Linked DNA regions of Homo sapiens: region 2 is linked to region 1. The links come from fine-mapping of genetic effects on gene expression. A gene starts in region 1. The other region holds a variant in brackets. All regions are shown on one strand. Distances are from middle to middle.

Evidence for each region. PIP is the estimated chance that this variant, and not a neighbour inherited with it, causes the effect.
Region 2: its variant is the best candidate, but not a certain one, in a credible set for the expression of NUMA1-AS1 in whole blood (INTERVAL, PIP 0.64).

Annotation. Positions count from the first base shown.
Region 1 is chr11:72,012,214-72,017,580 of GRCh38, reverse strand. It overlaps NUMA1-AS1 (NUMA1 antisense RNA 1), which reads right to left and starts at 3,290. Exons shown (of 4, transcript NR_104178.2): 1 at 694-3,290; 2 at 1-222. NUMA1 (nuclear mitotic apparatus protein 1) reads left to right here. Exons shown (of 27, transcript NM_006185.4): 14 at 1,051-1,173; 15 at 1,321-4,686; 16 at 5,139-5,180. RefSeq lists an enhancer at 1,889-2,636.
Region 2 is chr11:71,894,637-71,900,003 of GRCh38, reverse strand. All of the region lies in intron 5 of XNDC1N (XRCC1 N-terminal domain containing 1, N-terminal like), which reads left to right. All of the region lies in intron 6 of XNDC1N-ZNF705EP-ALG1L9P (XNDC1N-ZNF705EP-ALG1L9P readthrough), which reads left to right. Among named protein-coding and RNA genes, the nearest start is that of DEFB131B, 19 kb to the right of the region's middle. The variant T/C (reference allele first, on the strand shown) is at 3,267.

The sequences.
Region 1 (5,367 bases):
TTCAAGGTTCAATAGTGTGCTGTAATTGAAAGATTGTGGGCTTCAGTCTAGTACACCTTTTTTTTTTAACTTATTTTTTTTTTCCCCAGTCAATGCCCTCACTTTATAGTACACCTTTCAATCCTATCTCTGCTGTTCACAAGATGTGGATCTTGGACAAGTTAATCAGTCTGTTTTTCTAAGCATCCTTTCCCTAAAATGGGAGTAGTAACGAGTAGCTGCCTCATCACCTATTATGAGAAAACGTATGTAAAGCACTTCACACATCGTGTAGTGTAAAGTAAGCTCTCAGTGAACCAGTTGTGATTGTTACTATTGGTAAGAACCCAATTTGGCCACTTACTAATAACCATGTAGCCCTTGATCAAGGCACTTAGCATCTGCTTCAGGTTCTTGCTCTGTAAGAGGAATGGTAGTAGCTGCCTCCCACATAAGCTGGGTGTGGTGATGCATGCCTGTAGTCCCAGCTACTCGGGAGGCTGAGACAGAAGAAGCTCTCGAATCTGGGAGGTGGAGGTTGCAGTAAGCCAAGATCTCGCCACTGCACTCCAGCCTAGGCGATAGAGCGAGACTCTGTCTCAAAAAAAAAAAAAAAAAAAAAAAAATTAGGGATGAACCCAGCATAGCCTATTGTAGGTGCTTAGTGAACAGTGGTGAAGAAGTGGGTTTGGGACTGGGGGTTGCTGCAGCTGCTGCCAGTGGTATTGCTGCCCAGAGGATGGTGGGCAGCTGGTGGTGATTTGGATAATCTAGGACTCAAGACTTATCTGAGGAAGGGTATACGGTAAGGAAATTTGAAGTAAACTCAGCAGCCTTGGGGAAGTAGTAAGCAGGTTACATTATGACTTTATTGTGCCTTAGAACTAGGTCTAGAGAATCAGGTCCCTCATGCTCCCAGTTCCATGGTTTCTGCTTTTTTCTAGGCCAGGGCAAAAGGAGATCTTGGTAACAAGATGATGGGCCCCATGTTTGCTGATGTTTATGAGGGCTTGTGTGGTAATCTGGTGCCTGTTCCCCCTCTCTGTTCACATGGGTCTCATTTACTCCCAGAAATGCCTTGAAGAGAAGAACGAAATCCTTCAGGGAAAACTTTCACAGCTGGAAGAACACTTGTCCCAGCTGCAGGATAACCCACCCCAGGAGAAGGGCGAGGTGCTGGGTGATGTCTTGCAGGTAGGAATGCACAGAAAGACCTGTGTGCTGCTGGTTGGTGTGGACTCACATTCAGTACATTTGGGTTCCTGGTGTTCCTCCATTTCCAGAGGAGTCTTGATGACTGAGGAGTCATGCTGATCCCAGTTTGTCTCTTTATACCACCAGCTGGAAACCTTGAAGCAAGAGGCAGCCACTCTTGCTGCAAACAACACACAGCTCCAAGCCAGGGTAGAGATGCTGGAGACTGAGCGAGGCCAGCAGGAAGCCAAGCTGCTTGCTGAGCGGGGCCACTTCGAAGAAGAAAAGCAGCAGCTGTCTAGCCTGATCACTGACCTGCAGAGCTCCATCTCCAACCTCAGCCAGGCCAAGGAAGAGCTGGAGCAGGCCTCCCAGGCTCATGGGGCCCGGTTGACTGCCCAGGTGGCCTCTCTGACCTCTGAGCTCACCACACTCAATGCCACCATCCAGCAACAGGATCAAGAACTGGCTGGCCTGAAGCAGCAGGCCAAAGAGAAGCAGGCCCAGCTAGCACAGACCCTCCAACAGCAAGAACAGGCCTCCCAGGGCCTCCGCCACCAGGTGGAGCAGCTAAGCAGTAGCCTGAAGCAGAAGGAGCAGCAGTTGAAGGAGGTAGCGGAGAAGCAGGAGGCAACTAGGCAGGACCATGCCCAGCAACTGGCCACTGCTGCAGAGGAGCGAGAGGCCTCCTTAAGGGAGCGGGATGCGGCTCTCAAGCAGCTGGAGGCACTGGAGAAGGAGAAGGCTGCCAAGCTGGAGATTCTGCAGCAGCAACTTCAGGTGGCTAATGAAGCCCGGGACAGTGCCCAGACCTCAGTGACACAGGCCCAGCGGGAGAAGGCAGAGCTGAGCCGGAAGGTGGAGGAACTCCAGGCCTGTGTTGAGACAGCCCGCCAGGAACAGCATGAGGCCCAGGCCCAGGTTGCAGAGCTAGAGTTGCAGCTGCGGTCTGAGCAGCAAAAAGCAACTGAGAAAGAAAGGGTGGCCCAGGAGAAGGACCAGCTCCAGGAGCAGCTCCAGGCCCTCAAAGAGTCCTTGAAGGTCACCAAGGGCAGCCTTGAAGAGGAGAAGCGCAGGGCTGCAGATGCCCTGGAAGAGCAGCAGCGTTGTATCTCTGAGCTGAAGGCAGAGACCCGAAGCCTGGTGGAGCAGCATAAGCGGGAACGAAAGGAGCTGGAAGAAGAGAGGGCTGGGCGCAAGGGGCTGGAGGCTCGATTACAGCAGCTTGGGGAGGCCCATCAGGCTGAGACTGAAGTCCTGCGGCGGGAGCTGGCAGAGGCCATGGCTGCCCAGCACACAGCTGAGAGTGAGTGTGAGCAGCTCGTCAAAGAAGTAGCTGCCTGGCGTGAGCGGTATGAGGATAGCCAGCAAGAGGAGGCACAGTATGGCGCCATGTTCCAGGAACAGCTGATGACTTTGAAGGAGGAATGTGAGAAGGCCCGCCAGGAGCTGCAGGAGGCAAAGGAGAAGGTGGCAGGCATAGAATCCCACAGCGAGCTCCAGATAAGCCGGCAGCAGAACGAACTAGCTGAGCTCCATGCCAACCTGGCCAGAGCACTCCAGCAGGTCCAAGAGAAGGAAGTCAGGGCCCAGAAGCTTGCAGATGACCTCTCCACTCTGCAGGAAAAGATGGCTGCCACCAGCAAAGAGGTGGCCCGCTTGGAGACCTTGGTGCGCAAGGCAGGTGAGCAGCAGGAAACAGCCTCCCGGGAGTTAGTCAAGGAGCCTGCGAGGGCAGGAGACAGACAGCCCGAGTGGCTGGAAGAGCAACAGGGACGCCAGTTCTGCAGCACACAGGCAGCGCTGCAGGCTATGGAGCGGGAGGCAGAGCAGATGGGCAATGAGCTGGAACGGCTGCGGGCCGCGCTGATGGAGAGCCAGGGGCAGCAGCAGGAGGAGCGTGGGCAGCAGGAAAGGGAGGTGGCGCGGCTGACCCAGGAGCGGGGCCGTGCCCAGGCTGACCTTGCCCTGGAGAAGGCGGCCAGAGCAGAGCTTGAGATGCGGCTGCAGAACGCCCTCAACGAGCAGCGTGTGGAGTTCGCTACCCTGCAAGAGGCACTGGCTCATGCCCTGACGGAAAAGGAAGGCAAGGACCAGGAGTTGGCCAAGCTTCGTGGTCTGGAGGCAGCCCAGATAAAAGAGCTGGAGGAACTTCGGCAAACCGTGAAGCAACTGAAGGAACAGCTGGCTAAGAAAGAAAAGGAGCACGCATCTGGCTCAGGAGCCCAATCTGAGGCTGCTGGCAGGACAGAGCCAACAGGCCCCAAGCTGGAGGCACTGCGGGCAGAGGTGAGCAAGCTGGAACAGCAATGCCAGAAGCAGCAGGAGCAGGCTGACAGCCTGGAACGCAGCCTCGAGGCTGAGCGGGCCTCCCGGGCTGAGCGGGACAGTGCTCTGGAGACTCTGCAGGGCCAGTTAGAGGAGAAGGCCCAGGAGCTAGGGCACAGTCAGAGTGCCTTAGCCTCGGCCCAACGGGAGTTGGCTGCCTTCCGCACCAAGGTACAAGACCACAGCAAGGCTGAAGATGAGTGGAAGGCCCAGGTGGCCCGGGGCCGGCAAGAGGCTGAGAGGAAAAATAGCCTCATCAGCAGCTTGGAGGAGGAGGTGTCCATCCTGAATCGCCAGGTCCTGGAGAAGGAGGGGGAGAGCAAGGAGTTGAAGCGGCTGGTGATGGCCGAGTCAGAGAAGAGCCAGAAGCTGGAGGAGAGGCTGCGCCTGCTGCAGGCAGAGACAGCCAGCAACAGTGCCAGAGCTGCAGAACGCAGCTCTGCTCTGCGGGAGGAGGTGCAGAGCCTCCGGGAGGAGGCTGAGAAACAGCGGGTGGCTTCAGAGAACCTGCGGCAGGAGCTGACCTCACAGGCTGAGCGTGCGGAGGAGCTGGGCCAAGAATTGAAGGCGTGGCAGGAGAAGTTCTTCCAGAAAGAGCAGGCCCTCTCCACCCTGCAGCTCGAGCACACCAGCACACAGGCCCTGGTGAGTGAGCTGCTGCCAGCTAAGCACCTCTGCCAGCAGCTGCAGGCCGAGCAGGCCGCTGCCGAGAAACGCCACCGTGAGGAGCTGGAGCAGAGCAAGCAGGCCGCTGGGGGACTGCGGGCAGAGCTGCTGCGGGCCCAGCGGGAGCTTGGGGAGCTGATTCCTCTGCGGCAGAAGGTGGCAGAGCAGGAGCGAACAGCTCAGCAGCTGCGGGCAGAGAAGGCCAGCTATGCAGAGCAGCTGAGCATGCTGAAGAAGGCGCATGGCCTGCTGGCAGAGGAGAACCGGGGGCTGGGTGAGCGGGCCAACCTTGGCCGGCAGTTTCTGGAAGTGGAGTTGGACCAGGCCCGGGAGAAGTATGTCCAAGAGTTGGCAGCCGTACGTGCTGATGCTGAGACCCGTCTGGCTGAGGTGCAGCGAGAAGCACAGAGCACTGCCCGGGAGCTGGAGGTGATGACTGCCAAGTATGAGGGTGCCAAGGTCAAGGTCCTGGAGGAGAGGCAGCGGTTCCAGGAAGAGAGGCAGAAACTCACTGCCCAGGTAAGGTACTCAGCCCAACCACCCTCCCAAAGATCAGGAGCTGAGAGCGCGGGGACATCGATCCTCTGTGTCCAGGGCCTCTAGCTCCTACACTGGAGTGTCTTGCCTTTCCTCATTCACTGGGTGGCAGAAAAGGAGAGGTGGCTGGTGGAGTTCAAGTCTGTTGCCCCTGTCATCCTAAAGAAAATGTCAGTGGCCTCCCCTCCCCTGAAGGCTCTGTCACTAGAGAGTCAAGTTGTGATGACCACCAGCCTGTTCAGAGGCACACCTGCACTGGATGCCTCAGGAGCCACTGGGGATTAGAATCAGCCTAACTGGCATTTTTAAACTTACTGTCAATCTAGCTCCTTAGGGGAAAGTATCAGAGCCTCAGTGAGGTCAGCCTGGCAGCAGGGCTGGTGCTTCTTTGGCCTCATCTCACTCTGTCTCTGTTGCTCCTCCCCCATGTACAGGTGGAGCAGCTAGAGGTATTTCAGAGAGAGCAAACTAAGCAGGTAATGCCTGAGGTCCTCGCTAAATGCTGGCTGCTTAAACGGTGACCAGTCTTGGTGCATGAGCCCGGCTGCAGCTTGCCTCCGCCAGCTCCTGTTGTGAACTGTTTGTGAAGGGGGCAGGGTCAAGCCATGGAATCCAGGCCCAGGCTGCCCAGGAGTGTGGTGTGCTGGGCTCTCTCAGGCCTCA
Region 2 (5,367 bases), 120 kb after region 1:
AACAAGGCAGCATTGCTGCAAACTTGTCTCGCCTCCCACCATAGGGCGGTTTTTCCCCCATCTCAGAATTGAACAAATGTACAATCGGGTTTTATACCGAGACATTCATTTCCCAGGGGCAGGCAGGAGACAGGGGCCTTCCTCTCTCTCAACTGCAAGAGGCTTTCCTCTTTGACTAATCCACCTCAGCACAGACCCTTTACGGGTGTCGGGCTCGGCGACGGTCAGGTCTTTCTCCTCCCACGAGGCCACTTTTCAGACTATCACATGGGGAGAAAACTTGGACAATATGCCGCTTTCAAGGGCAGGGCTCCCTGCGGCTTTCCACAGTGTATCGTGCCCCTGGTTTATTGAGAATAGAGAATGGCGATGACTTTTACCAAGTATACTGCTTGGAAACATCTTGTTAACAAGGCACGTCCTGCGCAGCCCTAGATCCCTTAAACCTTGATTTCATACAACACATGTTTTTGTGAGCTTCAGGTTGGGTCAAAGTGTCTGGGGCAAATCTACACATTAACAACATCTCAGCAAAGCAATTGTTGAAAGTTCAGGTCTTTCTCCAAATGGAGTCTTTTATGTCTTTCCTTTCTACATAGACACAGTAAGAGTCTGATCTCTTTCTTTTCCCTACACTCACTGAACTGCCCTTCCCCTCTGCTGGGCCATGACCACGGAGAACAGGTCCACTGTCCTCCCTGTGTGGTGCACCATGGAGGCTCAGACTCCGTCTTCAAGGCTGGCAAGAAGACAGGGTGATACAGGTGACGGGAGTGGAGCCCACAGGACTGGAACCCCACACTGCAGGGCTGGAGGCACAGACTGACTATTTACTATTCTGTGGCCTGGGGGGCTCAAGGCACAGAGCTCCTTCTTAGCCAAAGTCACCCAAGTTCCCCAACCTCTAAGGATGTCCGTATAATAATGCAAGAAGAAGAAGAGAAAAGTGAGTGTCCATAGAAGATTTGGGGCTCTTCCTCTAATCAGGAGAAAGCTAGTGTGTATTCTTCCCTTCTTTCTTTTCTTTTTAAACATCCAACTGCTTTAATTTTCATCTTTTATTATGGGAAAATATACCACATATAAATATTAAAAATTATAAATATATATTACTTCATATAGAATGGCCAGTATAAACATTTACAGTTTCCATGCTTTTTCAGTTTACAGTTTCATGACATTAAGTACGTTCACATTGTTTAGCAACCATCACCGTCATCGTCTCCAGAACAGTTTTATCTTTCAAAATGGAAATTGCACCCATTCACCAAGCTCTCCACTCCTCTTTCTCGCCCACCCCTGGGGGCCACCTTTCTAGTTTGTAACTCTATGAGTTTAACTACTCTAGACACTTAATAGATAAATGGAATCATACTGTATTTAATTGTTTTGTTTTGGAAACAGAGTCTTTCTCTGTCACCCCGGCTGGAGTGCAGTGGCGTGATGTCGCCTCACTGCAATCTCCACATCCTGGGTTCAAGCGATTCTTGTGTCTCAGCCTCCCGAGTAGCTGGGATTACAGGCGTGCGCTATCACGCCCAGCTAATTTTTGTATTTTTAATAGAGACGAGCTTTCACCATATTGGCCAGGCTGTTCTCGAACTCCTGAGCTTAAGTGATCCGCCTGCCTCAGCCTCCCAAAGTGCTGGGGTTACATGTGCGAGCCACTGAGACTGGGCATGTTTATCCTTTTGGGATTTATTTATTTCACTGACGATAATGTCTTCAAGGTTCATCCATGTTGCGGCCTGCGTCAGAAGTGCCTGTTTGTTTTTGTTGTTTTTTTTTTCATTTGGTTTTATTTTGTTTTGCTTTGCGTTTTCATGGAGTCTCACTCTGTCGCACAGGCTGGAGTGCAGTGGCACAATCGGGGCTCACTCCAACCTCCGCCTCCTGGGTTCCAGCGATTCTTGTGCCTCAGCCTCTTGAGTAGTTGGGACTATAGGCACACGCCACCACGCTCGTTTCATTTTTTGCATTTTCAGTAGAGACAGGGTTTCACCAAGATGGCCAGGCTGGTCTTGAATTCCTGACCTCAGGTGATCCGCCCACCTCGGTCTTCCAAGACGCTGCGATTACAGGCGTGAGCCACCGCACCGGCCAGAAGTGCCTGCCTTTTGAAGGCTGAATGGTCTTCCATTGTATGAAAGAACTGCAGTGTGCTTTTTCATTCATCTGTCCACGAACCCTTGGGTTGCTTCCACATTTTGGCTGTTGTGAATAATGCTGCTATGAATATGGGTGTACACAAATCTGTCTTCCACTCCTGGCTTCTAATTCTTTTTGGTAGGTACCCACAAATGCAACTGCGGGAACATCTGATCATTCTGTTTCTAATTTTTCCAGTACACGCCATACTATTTTCCCCCACTCCTTCACGGTTTTACATTCCCTCCGATCAGAATCGAGCATTCCTACTTCTCTCTAGTCTCACCAATGCCTGTTTGTTTATCACATCCATCCTAATCTGTGGTATCACATTCTTGGTTTGATTTGTGCTTCCCTATGATGAGTGATTTTGAACATCACCTTAGATGCTTATTGGCCATTGTGATATCTTCTTTAGGGACACGTCTACTCGCGTCTTCTGACCATTGTTGATGGGATGCTTTGGGTTTCTTGTTGTTTAGTTCTAGCTGTTCTTTATATATGATGGCTGTCAGCCTCTTTTCAGATATATGCTTTGCAAATATATTTCCTAATCCATGGGTTATGTTTTCACTCAGTTCGCCATGTTTTTTGCTGCACAAAAGTGTCTGTCATTTATATGTAATCCAAGGAATCTAATTTTCTTTTGTTGCCTATGCTTTTGGTGTCATATCCCAGAGAACATTGCCCAATCTGATGTCATGAAAGCGTGGCCAATGTTTTCTTTTAGGCGTGTCATACTTTTAGCGCTTGGGGTGAGGTCTCTGATCCAGTTTTTGTTAATTTTTGCACCTGGTGTGACATAGGGTCCACCTTCATTCTTCTGTATGTGGAAATCAAGTTTCTCCAACACCATTTCTTGAAAAGGCTGCTGTTCCACCAATGAGCTTTCTTAGCACTCGTGAAAAATCATGTGAACATAAAGGTGAGAAGTTATTTCTGGGCTCCAAAACAAACAAACAACAACTGACAACAGATAAGGATACAGCATGGGCCGGCCGCAGTCGCTCACGCCTGTAATCCCAGCCCTTTGGGAGGCCGAGGCGGGTGGATCACGTGAGGTCAGGAGTTGAAGACCAGCCTGACCGACAGGGAGAAACCCCCGTCTCTACCAGAAA[T/C]ACAACATTAGCTGGGCGTGCTGGCGCATGCCTGTAATCCCAGCTACTCGGGAGGTGGAGGCAGGAGAATCGCTTGAACCCAGGAGGCAGAGGTTGCGGTGAGCCAAGATTGCACCATGACACTCCAGCCTGGGCAACAAGAGTGAAACTCCATCTCAAAACAAAAAACAAAAAACCAGCATGATTTCAAGAGCAGAAACAGAAGAGCTTAAAAACCAGCATAATGAGAAAGTTAGGAAGCTTCTTACCAAAGCATCTGGAAATATGCAAGCAATTCTTGTGAACTAAAATTTTCATACTGTACTATCAAACACTAGAACTCACTTATTCCATCTTTCTGTATTTTGGGACTCAATTATCCACTTTTCTTCATTCCCTATCTCACCCCTTTTCTTCCTAGCGTCTGCTAACCATCTTTATACTTTCCACCTTCTTGAGATTCCTTTTGTGTGCAGGTGTGTGATGGAGTCTCTTTCTGTTGCCCAGGTTGGTGTACACAGGCACAGTCCGGGCTCACTGCAAGCTCCGCCTCCTGAGTTCAAGCGCTTCTTGGGCCTCAGCCCTCCGAGTAGCTGAGACTACAGGCACAGGTCACCACGCCCGACTCATTTTTTGTGTTTACCGTGGAGACGGGGTTTCATCATGTTGGCCAGGCGGGTCTCGAACTCCTGGACTCAAGTGATCTGTGTGACTCGGCCTCTTAGAGTGCTGGGATTACAGGCCTGAGCCACCACACCTGGCCATGGTTTCCTTTTTTCTTCCTACATAGAAGTGAGGACATGAAATATTTGTCATTCTGTGCCTGGCTTCTTTCATTTAATGTACAGATCTGCAGTCTCATCCATTTTGTCTGCAGTGGAGAGGAGTTTCTTCCTTTTTAGGTTGCATAATACTTCATTGGGTGTGTATACCACAGTTTCTTCATTGAAACAAATTTCTGAAGAGCAAATATTTTTAAAATGTCTCGGAATGTGAAACTTCAGGGATACTGTGCCCATTTTATTCTTTTCTGTTTCCCATCTTATGTATATGCAAGTGTATAACAAAGCAGCAATCAATGTGTGTATAAATGTAGAACTTCAACAAATGTAAAATGTAAATGCTAAGTGGTGGCTGGGCGCGGTCGCGCATGCCTGTAATCCCAGCAGTTTGGGGGGCGGAAGCGGGCGGATCACCTGAGGTCGGGAGTTCAAGACCAGCCTGACCAAAATGGAGAAACACTGTCTCTATTAACAATACAAAAAAAAAAAAAAAAAAAAAAATAGCCAGGCATGGTAGCGCATGCCTGTAATCCCAGCTACTTGGAAGGCTGAGACAGGAGAATTGCTTGAATAGGGGAGGCAGAAGTTGCAGTGAGCCGAGACCGTGCCATTGAACTCCAGCCTGGGCAACAAGAGTGAAACTCTGACTCAAAAAAAAAGGGAAAGAAATAGAAAATGCGAAATGGTAAGAAAAAACAACATAATAAATATTTGTATGGTGTTGCTGGACAATGCATTTGAAGATAATATTTGAAGAAATCATACTACAATTAATTTCTGCTCTTACTCTTTGGAGCTTGATGCCTCTAAAAACTTCATTATTGGAACCACCTCTGGTGCTTTAAAAGAAAAAAAAAAAAAATCCACACACTCACACAGGTGCAAGGAAATCAGAATCTCAGGTATTGAGACCCAGGCCTCATCATTTTTAACTCCCCAGGTGATTTGACTCAAAGCCAAGATTGAAGAATGGCGACATGGATCTCTCTACATAACCTGCCTAAATAGATTCTATAGAAGCAGTTTATAAAGAAATTCCACATGAACTGTGGAAGAGGATATGAATTTGATGTACAGTATGTCCTCACTTAACATCTTTGAAAGTCTCTTGGAAACGTCACCTTGAAGCAAAATTATGTATAGTGAAACCACTTATTTTTCATCAACAGTATAACTACATAACTTTGAACAACCAATGGTGTTGGAGGACCTCCTGTACATTGTTTCCATAAAGTCAGTTTTCAGGGAATTCCAAAACGAAGTGAGGACTTCGTGTATATGAAAAGATGGTTGTGATTCCACCTGGATGACAGGGTTATTGCTCAGAAACTAAAAGAGGC